Linked DNA regions of Homo sapiens. The protein of the gene in region 1 purifies or fractionates together with the protein of each later gene. This does not show direct contact. Each region holds a gene or a part of one and is shown in the gene's direction. Other genes may lie near its edges. The genes, in order: CYTH4, TUFT1 and CWC25.

Region 1 (3,653 bases):
GTTATGTGGTGTGCTGTGTTGGTGGGTCAAACACCCTAAGCCTCTGGATAGTGGTGCTGGCTGAGGCTCTGTGGGCAGGAAAGGCAAACACATTTCCAACACGTGTCGACTCCAGACAAGATGGATTGTTGACTTTTGCAGAATAGAAGGGGTTTCATGGAATCAGTTTGCCCCCTGGTCTTCTGGAGAAAAGATGGGCTCAGCATGCGTCCCTGTTGCTGGCAGAGTGGACATTCCGCTCCCACGGGGTCATCCACCTGCCTCTTCTCCTGACATCTGTGTTTCTGATCTTCCCATCTTCCTTCTTTCTTGCCTCTGACCAAGAAGTCAAGCCATTCACCACTGCCCATGATGCATGGATATTCTGACTTCAAGAAGTCACTTCTCTTTCCACAGGAAGTGGATGGCCAGGTGCCCTGCCTGAAGCCCTGCCCCCTGGGAGGACTTGCCCTCATCACTGTCTTTCCAGGACACCTTTGAGCAGGACTGTAGTTCAGTAGCTGCCTGGTTTTCACTTGCGCCCAAACTCTGAGCCAACTCATTCTGCAACCAGCCTTGGGCATTTTCCTCTGTTGTTAGAAAGTCATAAGGGACCCACCCATGTGGTCACGGTGTAAGCAGAGGGATAGACCCTGGTCCACCAGCAGCGGTGACATGAGGATCTGGGCCACCTATCCCTGGAGCCTACTGGAGCCCTCTGGCTCTGCTCACACCTGCTCCTGGACGTACCACTCACAAAGGGTTACTATTGGGCTCGCTTGACCTTCTGACTTAGTGGGACAGATGGAGCCATCTGAGCTACTTAGTTACATGATGTTCCGTGGGCTGGCACTCTATCTCTACCAGGACCCGGTGCCATTCCAGGAACTGTTTTCTGCATAGTATATAATTCTCTGCTAGAAGGAAGCAGCTGGAAGGAGCAGGCCATCCTCCCGACCGGGGAAGTGCTTGGGTATGTGATGAGGGCCATTGCTCCTGCATCCGTTAGGTCTCAAGAGTGGCACCCACACCTGCCATTCCCCTCAGGATATAGTTTTTTATTTAGTCTCTTCGCTGTGGGGATGATGGGTCAGCTTCATAAATTTCCAAATAGCTATTCCCACTACAATGATCCTGACCCCATGGGCCAAGGTACCAATATGGGCTCAAGTACCAGCGATGTCCATTCCAATTCTACATCTGTAGGCCAGGAAAGTGGCCATGAATCAAGCAGACCCCTAGTGAGCTGGACCTGGAAGGACTTCATTTACCACCTGGTCTCTATGTACCCCCACTCAAATGTGGCCCTGAAGACACTTCAGTCTTGAGCGCTGATGTCAACTTGGATCCTGTGTCCAACAATCCTCAGAATGTTTGGATATTGCTCTTTCCCCAGTGTACAGTTGTTGGAGTGAATGGCCACAGGTGTTTTAATGTGGAACCAGGGAGTCATTGCCATATATACTTGCCACAATGTTGCAGGACTCTTCCCTTGGAACCCAGCCTCTCCTTCAGTCCCGACGTTCTGTATCTGAAAACTGGGGTAGGTCCTGAAACCAGGCAAGGGGTCTTGGGTTTTTTTGTTTGTTTTGTTTTGTTTTGTTTTGGAGACAGAGTCTCACTCTGTTGCCCAGGCTGGAGTGCAGTGGCATGATCTGGGCTCCCTGCAAGCTCCGCCTCCCAGGTTCACGCCATTCTCCTGCCTCAGCCTCCTCCGGTGTACCTGGGACTACAGGTGCCCACCACCATGCCTGGCTAATTTTTTGTATTTTTAGTAGAGATGGGGTTTCACTGTGTTATCCAGGATGGTCTCGATCTCCTGACCTCGTGACCCGCCCGCCTCGGCCTCCCAAAGTGCTGGGATTAGAGGCGTGAGCCACCTTGCCTGACCGGGACTTGGCTTTTTATTGCAGTGGCTGCCCTTGGTCAGGGGAACTCCTGGGCGTGGCACCTCCCTTTGGCTGAGGCTAGTGTCTGGGGAGGGATTCAGCTGTGAGCCATCAGCAGGCTTTCCTCCCAGCAGCTGGGGGGATGGTGCCTTGGTCCTGAAGAGAAGAGCCAGATGCACACAGCACCCATTGCACACATGTGGGACTCAGCATATGTTGGATTCTTGCTGGGTGTTTGACAAAGTGTAGCTCTTTCCTTCCTGACAGCTGCCCTGTGAGGCAAGGGTTATGGTTCACATTTCACAGATGAGGATGCTGTATTAGGTATATCTCAGATTTAGCTGCTTAAAGAGACTCAGAATAACAGCAACCGAAACATTCTCAAAACTGATTTATTTCTTATTGAAAAGTCCAAATGGATAGGTGGGCCAGGTGAACATGATGAGTCTTCTCCACACCGCTGCCTGGGGACCTGGGCTCCATCTAGCCTGGTGCCCTGCATCTCCGCATGGGGCTTTAATCTCAACAGCCACAATGCCTGCTTAATCATGAGAAGGAGAAGTAGGGAAAGGGAGCGCTCAACATTCCCTCTGTGTTCTTTTGGAGGAAATGATGTCTATCCTTGTAAAACCTTTAAGAAATGCGGCCAGGCACTTCCCGACGCTGGAACTTGAAGGTCAGCGAGGATTTGGGCAGGCAGACAGGAGAAGGCATCCCAGAGTACAGGAGCGGCCTGGGCAAACATGGGGAAGTGGGACTGAGTCCTGGATGGCTCTGGAGCAGGAAGGAGCTGGCAGGCTGGACTGGCAGGCTCTTTTTGGGAATGGCAGGGAATAAGTCTGGCTGCCAAGGCTGGAGAGGTTGTGGAGGCCCCAGGCCCAGGATGAAGACTTTCTCTCTGAGTAATAGGGAGGCCATATTACTCAGAGAAGGAGAGTGTTGTGGATGAAACAGAAGCCACCATGAAGCATGAAGATAGGACAGCTGACCTAGTTGTGGGCATCATCACAGCACCTTGCATAGAATGCCGCACACACAAATCTTATTTCATTTAATTCATTTCCAAGTGGAGATGAAAGAGCACAGGCTTTGGAGTCAGCCCAATTCAAGGTCCCATCCTGGCTCAGTGACCTTTTCCCTGTGGGTTGAGTCACCTCACCTCTCTGAGCCCCAGTATCCAGGGGCAGGGACTATAAAATATCCCCCAAATCCAGCCTCCCCATTTTACACAGTAAGGACATCAGGACCACCCTGCTACAGGCTCATTTCCCAGCCTCCCTTGCAGCTAGGTGTGGCCACGTGACTACATTCTGGCCAATGGGATGTGAGGAAAATGGTATACCACTTCTTGGTTGTTCAAATAAATAAGTGAATAAATAATGAGCCCATGAGCCAGTGGAGGAGGAGATTCAAGTTCCGGGGAAGGAATGCGTGCCTTCAGCGAGTGTTTAACTGAGTGCTTATGACATGTCAGACTCTTTCTAGGTGCTGGGGACACAGTAGTGAGCAAAAGAGTAGAACAACTGAACTCTCATGGAGCCGAGAGTCTAGCGGGAGGGACAGAAAAGATGCAAGGAAACAGGATCCTTTTGGGGGTGTCTATCCAGGGGGGTGGGAGAAACAGGAAGCAGGGCAGGAGAGGAGGGAGCAGGGGCTGCTTTAGACAGGGCAGTCAGGGGAGGCTTCCTGGAGGAGGTGGGCCTCTGTGAATAGGGCAAGTCCTGGGTTTCCGGAGGGAAGGGGGCCCTGCAGAAGTGAGGGCAAGTGGGTGTGGCTGGAGCCAAG
Region 2 (3,040 bases), on another chromosome or scaffold:
CAGAATGACTTATCCCTTCTAACCTTTCCGAGCCTCAGTTTCCTCTCTTAGACTAGGTGATCCCTGATGATGCTTCCAATGTAATATTCTTTTTTTTTGTGAGACAAAGTCTTGCTCTGTCACCCAGGCTGGAGTGCAGTGGCGCCATCTTGGCTCACTGCCACCTCTGCCTCCTGGGTTCAAGCGATTCTTGTGCCTCAGCCTCCTGAGTAGCTGGGACTACAGGCACACGCCACCACACTTGGCTAATTTTAGTATTCTTAGTAGAGGTGGGGTTTCACTATGTTGGCCAGGCTGGTCTTGAACTCCTGACCTCAGTGCTTCCAATGTGATATTCTAAGGTACCCACCACCTACTCTTCAGAGCAGCCTACCAGGGAATCAGGCAAAGGGAATCATATTAATGGGAACCTCCCAAGCTCAAGGCTCTTCCTGTGACTGGGTAAATAAGTGATCTTGTTCCATTGCCTCAGCCTTCTGGTCTTTATCCCCAGGGCTGCTACCCTGGAAAAGGAAGTGGCCGGGTTGCGGGAGAAGATCCACCACTTGGATGACATGCTCAAGAGCCAGCAGCGGAAAGTCCGGCAAATGATAGAGCAGGTAAGTTGGGCTGGTTTGTAACCTGCCCTCGGGGAGTCACCCCAAGTCTATGCTCTTATTTGTTTCCTAGGGAGCTTGACTTATATTCATGCATTTCCCATGTCAAACATTTATAGCTACCAATTACCAGGTTCAGGTTATTAGGATTTGCTTTTCTCCCATCTTTCCCCTACTGTTTTGTTTGTTTGTTTGCCATTTGGCCTCTGCTTTCCAATAGGAAAGGAAGGAAAAGGTTAATTTGTCATATACTCTGTGAAGAGTGTGGGTAAATGAGTAGTTGAGTCATAATAAACTCTGTTATCTGTGCAGATTATCAGTCTTTGAGCCTCATGGCTGCTTTCCTGCCTTACCCCACCTGAGCTTGAGGGTAGCATACTTAGGATTTGTCTATTTGCAGAATTGTTTTGAGAGCCTAAGGCCCCATAACTGGGAGGCTGTATGTGCTTCATGTCAGCTCCATTAGTGTCTGTTTTATTTAGTGCTGTTTTCCATTATCTCGAACAGAGTCAGTCATATAGTAAGTACTCAATAAATATGTCTTGAATGAAAAAATAATTTGTATTTTCCAAAGCCATATGGAATGGGTTTTGTCATTCATTATTTTGGATTCTCAGGGTGGTATTCCCCTCACACACTCCTCACTCCCACCCCTGGGATAATCAAGAGTCTAATATTGACTGAAAGGAGGCCTTTGTAGAAAAGCTAATGAAGTCATATGGAGTTGCAGGGCTCTGCTGCCTTCCCCAGCAGCTGGGGTGAAGTCTGGTGAGTGTGTAATGAGTCATTGCAAAATGAGCTCCAGTGTCTCCCACACCTTTGCAGCTCCAGAATTCAAAAGCTGTGATCCAGTCAAAGGACGCCACCATCCAGGAGCTCAAGGAGAAAATCGCCTATCTGGAGGCAGAGGTGTGTGTGCTGGGCAGCCCAGCAGGGGAACAGGACTCTTGAAGAGAAGGTGGACATAAGGGAGACAGAGGTTATGGGAGGGGTCTTTGTCATGTCTTGCTGTTGCTCTGAAGTGAATACCTAGGGTGGTTGGTTGACTTTCAGTTCAGCTGAATAAACATTTTCTGAGAACCTTCAGGAAGCTGCTAACAATGATGAGATGACCACCCCCCTGGCCCCACCTTCAACGGACATGTCATCATGGTGCAAGCCACATGCCATGGCTGCACACGGCTAATTCTGACCCTCCAGGCTTTGCAAAGGAGCTGGCAGTGGTGCTGGGCTGTGAAGGAGGAGGAGGCATTCATACAGATGGAGCCTTTTCCAGGGCTAGATTACGTAACGAGTTGCCTTCCTAGTCTAATTTCCACTTTGCCACAGGGCCCTACCTGTCTGTTGACTACCTGAAGATCACTTTGCGAACGCTCTGTGAAGATCCCCTGTAGTGAGGGAGAAAAATGGGAGAAAGGGTTATCTTTAGAGAGTTTGCAGTCTATAGTCAGAGATAAAATGTGTATTTTTAAAAAGACCAAAGAATGCTTTATAGAATAGCGTATCAACAAAGGCAAGTGAGTATCTCAACTGAGGACAAAAAATTATATATAGGGGCCAGGTGCAGTGGCTCATGCCTGTAATCCCAGCACTTAGGGAGGTTGAGGCGGTAGGATTGCTCGAGGCCAGGAGTTCAAGACCTAGGCAACATAGTGAGACTTTGTCTCTGAAAAAGAAAAAATTTTTTTAATTAACCAGATGTGGTGGCATGCATCTGTAGTCCAGTTACTTGGGAGACTTAAAGGAGAGGATCACTTGAACCCAGGAGGTCGAGGCTGCAGTGAGCTATAATCACGCCACTGCACTCCAGCCTGGGCAACAGAGTGAGACCCTATCTCAAAAAAAAAAAAAAAAAAAAAAGAACTGTATGTAGAGGACATATAGGAAACCATCAGTCTGTCAGTGTTGTACAGAGTTATGGAGGAGCAGGTATTGGAGGATAAGCGCAATCTATGGTAATGAAGATGAGGCAAGTGGGTATCCAGGTGGTGGCACGCATGGTGGGGGTAGAGGCAACAGCAGCATAAACACAGGCAGAGAGACCAGAATGCACTAGCTGAACGTGGCACCCGGGAAGCCAGAAAAAGGCCAACTCTAACCCCTAAGCTTGTGTTACAGAATTTAGAGATGCATGACCGGATGGAACACCTGATAGAAAAACAAATCAGTCATGGCAACTTCAGCACCCAGGCCCGGGCCAAGACAGAGAACCCGGGCAGGTGAGTGAGCGTGTGTAGATAGAATGGGGCCAGGGAGGAGGGGAGAAGGAGGGACAGAGCTCTGTAGAACCTTTAGTGCTAAGGCAAGAACAAGGCTCCTTTAAATCCAACTTTCCTCCCTCAGTCTGACCCACTGTTTGCCGGAACCATTTTCTAGCCCAATTAGAGTAGAACCTGTTAACACAAGCCCAGGGAGGTCCATGAATGGCTTCTAGAGATGTATGA
Region 3 (3,653 bases), on another chromosome or scaffold:
TGTGGAGTCTGATTAATGAGGTCAGAGTACAGATGCACAACTGTAGAGAAAGGAGCCAGCATTGTTGCAGACTCATGCCTGCTTGTCTGTCGTGAATGGGGGAAGGTGATTTTATATGCTTTGTTTTGTTTTGCCCTATCACATGTCCTACAATATTGTAAAACACTAAGATCAGCATTTGGTTCTCTCTGCCCCTTCTCTTTTTGGTCTTTACTGCTAATGTATTTAGATGACTTAAGTATTCATCTGTTTGTTTTGTATAGTTCTTTTTTTTTTTTTTTTTTTTTTTTTTGAGATGGAGTCTCGCTCTGTTGTCCAGGCTGGAGTGCAGCACGATCTCGGCTCACTGCAAGCTCCGCCTCCCGGGTTCATGCCATTCTCCTGCCTCAGCCTCCTGAGTAGCTGGGACTACAGGCGCCCGCCACCACGCCCGGCTAATTTTTTGTATTTTTAGTAGAGACGGGGTTTCACTGTGTTAGCCAGGATGGTGTCGATCTTTGACCTCATGATCCGCCCGCCTCGGCCTCCCAAAGTGTTGGGATTACAGATGTGAGCCACAGTGCCCGGCTGGTTTTATTTTTGTTATTTATTTTATTTTATTTTTTGAGATGGAGTCTCATTCTGTCGCCCGGGCTGGAGTGCAGTGGTGCGATCTTGGCTCACTGCAACATCTGCCTCCTGGGTTCAAGCGGGTCTCTTGCCTTAGCCTCCTGAGTAGCTGGGATTACAGGCGCACATCACCACGCCTGGCTAATTTTAGTATTTTAAGTAGAGATGGGGTTTCACCATGTTGGTCAGGCTAGTCTTGAACTCCTGACCTTGTGATCTGCCCGCTTCAGCCTCCCAAAGTGCTAGGATTACAGGCGTGAGCCACTGCACCCGGCCTATTATTTATTATTATTATTATTATTTTTTGAGTCAGAGTCTTGCTCTGTCTCCCAGGCTGGAGTGCAGTGGCACAATCTCCGCTCACTGCAGCCTCCACCTCCCAGGTTCAAGCAATTCTCCTGCTTCAGTCTGCTGAGTAGCTGGGATTACAGGCGTGTGCCACCACGCCTGGCTAATTATTATTATTATTATTGTTATTATTTTTGTGTGACAGAGTCTCGCTCTGTCACCAGGCTTGAGTGCAGTGGTGCGATCTCGGCTCACTGTAACCTCCGCCTCTTGAGTTCAAGCGATTCTCCTGCTTCAGCCTCCCGAGTAGCTGGGACTACAGATGCACGCCACCAGGTCCAGCTAATTTTTGTATTTTTAGTAGAGACAGGGTTTCACCATGTTGGCCTGGATGGCCTTGGTCTCTTGACCTTGTGATCCGCCCATCTTTGCCTCCCAAAGTGCTGGGATTACAGGCGTGAGTTACTGTGCCTGGCCTAATTTTTTTGTATATTTAGTAGAGATGGCATTTCACCATGTTGGCCAGGCTGGTCTTGAATTCCTGACCTCAAGTGATCTGCCCGCCTAGGCCTCCCAAAGTGCTGGGATTACAGGTGTGAGCCACAGCGCCCGGCCCCATGATCAATTCTTATTTTTTTTTTTTTGAGACCGAGTCTCGCACTGTCACCTGCGTTGGAGTACAATGGCATGATCTCAGCACATTGCAACCTCCACTTCTCGGGTTCAAGCGATTCTCCTCCCTCAGCCTCCCGAGTAGCTGGGACTACAGGCGTGTACCACCACGCCTGGCTAGTTTTTTGTATTTTTAGTAGAGACGGGGTTTCACTGTGTTGGCCAGGCTGGTCTTGATCTCCTGACCTCGTGATCAGCCTGTCTTGGCCTCCCAAAGTTCTAGGATTATAAGTGTGAGCCACCGTGCCCAGCTGATCAGTTCTTAACTGTAGACTACAGTGTTTCTCAGACTCATTTTTTTAATATGAAAAAAATTCTAAAGGGTCTTGGGGCCAGGCACGGTTGCTCACGCCTGTAATCCCAGCACTTTGGGAGGCCAAGGCTGGCAGATCACGGGGTCAGGAGATCGACCAGCCTGGCCAACACGGTGAAACCTCGTCTTTACTAAAAGTACAAAAAATTAGCCAGTCTTGGTGACACATGCCTATAGTCCCAGCTATTCGGGAGGCTGAGGCAGGAGAATAACTTGAACCTGGGAGGCAGAGGTTGCCGTGAGCCAAGATCGCTCCACTGCACTCCAGCCTGGGCAACAGAGTGAAACTCTGTCTGGGGGAAAAAAAAAAGGGTCATGGCCCTGCAGTGTTGGTTTAAATTATTCTTACCAAAAATGTCCAAGCATGCAACTAGGAAAACATTCTTTATGCTCACAGTTGTTATATAACCTCAAAAACAAGTATACACATTTAAAAAGTCATATTCAGGTTGGGCATGGTGGCTCACCCTTGTAATCCCAGCACTTTGGGAGGCTGAGGCAGGAGGATCACTTGAGGCCAGTAGTTTGAGACTAGCCTGGGCAACATAGCAAGTCCCATCTGTTTAAAAATTGAAAAAATAAAAAATCAGCAAGGCATGGTGGTGCATCCCTGTAGTCCCAGCTACTTGGGAGGCTGAGGCAGGATTTGTTGAGCCCAGGAATTCAAGGCTGCAGTGAGCCATGATCGCACCATTGCATTCCAGCCTGGGTGACAGAGTGAGACCCTGTGTCTAAAAGAAAAAAAAGAACAAAAAAGTCATATTCAAAAAGCATTTAATTTCAGGTTATAGATAATACTGTCAATGAAAGTACTTTCCTGGTTGCAGTGTGAATGTAGTATTGGCTGCTTCCACGCATGCTCTTATGAATTTAGCCTGCCTTTACTGTCTGTGGTATGAGGGTTCCACTTTCTCACCACTTTTTTCTCCCAGAACCGCAGGGAAATGTTTGTGTGGCATGATGCTGTGACTTAATTTGGCCCCTAGATGGCTGAGACCAGGGTTTATTCACTTGTGAAACCCAGATAGTTACCTAATGATTCACGTATTCAGTGTTTGGCTCTTTTGGCTTGAAAGCGTCACTTATTCAGTTACCTCTGATTTTTTCCCATCATCCCCTCAAATGTGTAGTGTTACCGCTGGTGTCTGTGTGCCCACAAGCACCAAGATGCACAATCAATGCAACTGCGTATGTGGTCACTGAAATTGTTCTTGATGGTAAGATGGTGATGTAGAATGTGCTTATTCATTGTTTTAGGTCATCTTGGAAATGAAAGCATAATATAAAGACTCTGTAAAGGAGACTCGAGAAGCTCTGAGCCAAGATCCACACCCCATGTTGAGGAACACTGGTTTTCCTTATAAATTGCTTTATGTGAGTGAATATTCTCTCTCCATTCACTCGTAAGCCTCATGAGGACAAGCACCATTTATTTATTTATTTATTTGAGACAAGGTCTGGCTCCGTCACCCAGGCTGGAGTGCAGTGGCGTGATCTTACTGCAACCTCTGCCTCCCAGGTTCAAGTGATTTTCCTGCCTCACCCTTCTGAGTAGGTGGGATTACAGGCGTCCGCCACCACGCCTGGCTAATGTTTTGTATTTTTAGTAGAGATGGGGTTTCATCATGTTGGCCAGGCTGGTCTCGAACTCCTGACCTCAAGTGATCCACCCGCTTCGGACTCCCAAAATGGTGGGATTACAGGCATGAGCCACTGCACGCAACCCGCACTATTTCTTTATGCCGGCCACATGGGGTGCCGTGTTTATTGC

Evidence for each region.
Region 2: the proteins of CYTH4 (region 1) and TUFT1 purify together in Homo sapiens (affinity purification with mass spectrometry; one large-scale study listed by BioGRID and IntAct). This does not show direct contact.
Region 3: the proteins of CYTH4 (region 1) and CWC25 purify together in Homo sapiens (affinity purification with mass spectrometry; one large-scale study listed by BioGRID and IntAct). This does not show direct contact.

Annotation. Positions count from the first base shown.
Region 1 is NC_000022.11:37,288,938-37,292,590, forward strand, and holds part of CYTH4 (cytohesin-4), read left to right. Parts: intron 1-3,653. UniProt on the Homo sapiens protein: Promotes guanine-nucleotide exchange on ARF1 and ARF5. Promotes the activation of ARF factors through replacement of GDP with GTP.
Region 2 is NC_000001.11:151,578,228-151,581,267, forward strand, and holds part of TUFT1 (tuftelin), read left to right. Parts: intron 1-493; coding exon 494-599; intron 600-1,421; coding exon 1,422-1,505; intron 1,506-2,714; coding exon 2,715-2,815; intron 2,816-3,040. UniProt on the Homo sapiens protein: Involved in the structural organization of the epidermis. Involved in the mineralization and structural organization of enamel.
Region 3 is NC_000017.11:38,815,228-38,818,880, reverse strand, and holds part of CWC25 (pre-mRNA-splicing factor CWC25 homolog), read left to right. Parts: intron 1-3,139; exon of another isoform or gene 3,140-3,256; intron 3,257-3,653. UniProt on the Homo sapiens protein: Involved in pre-mRNA splicing as component of the spliceosome.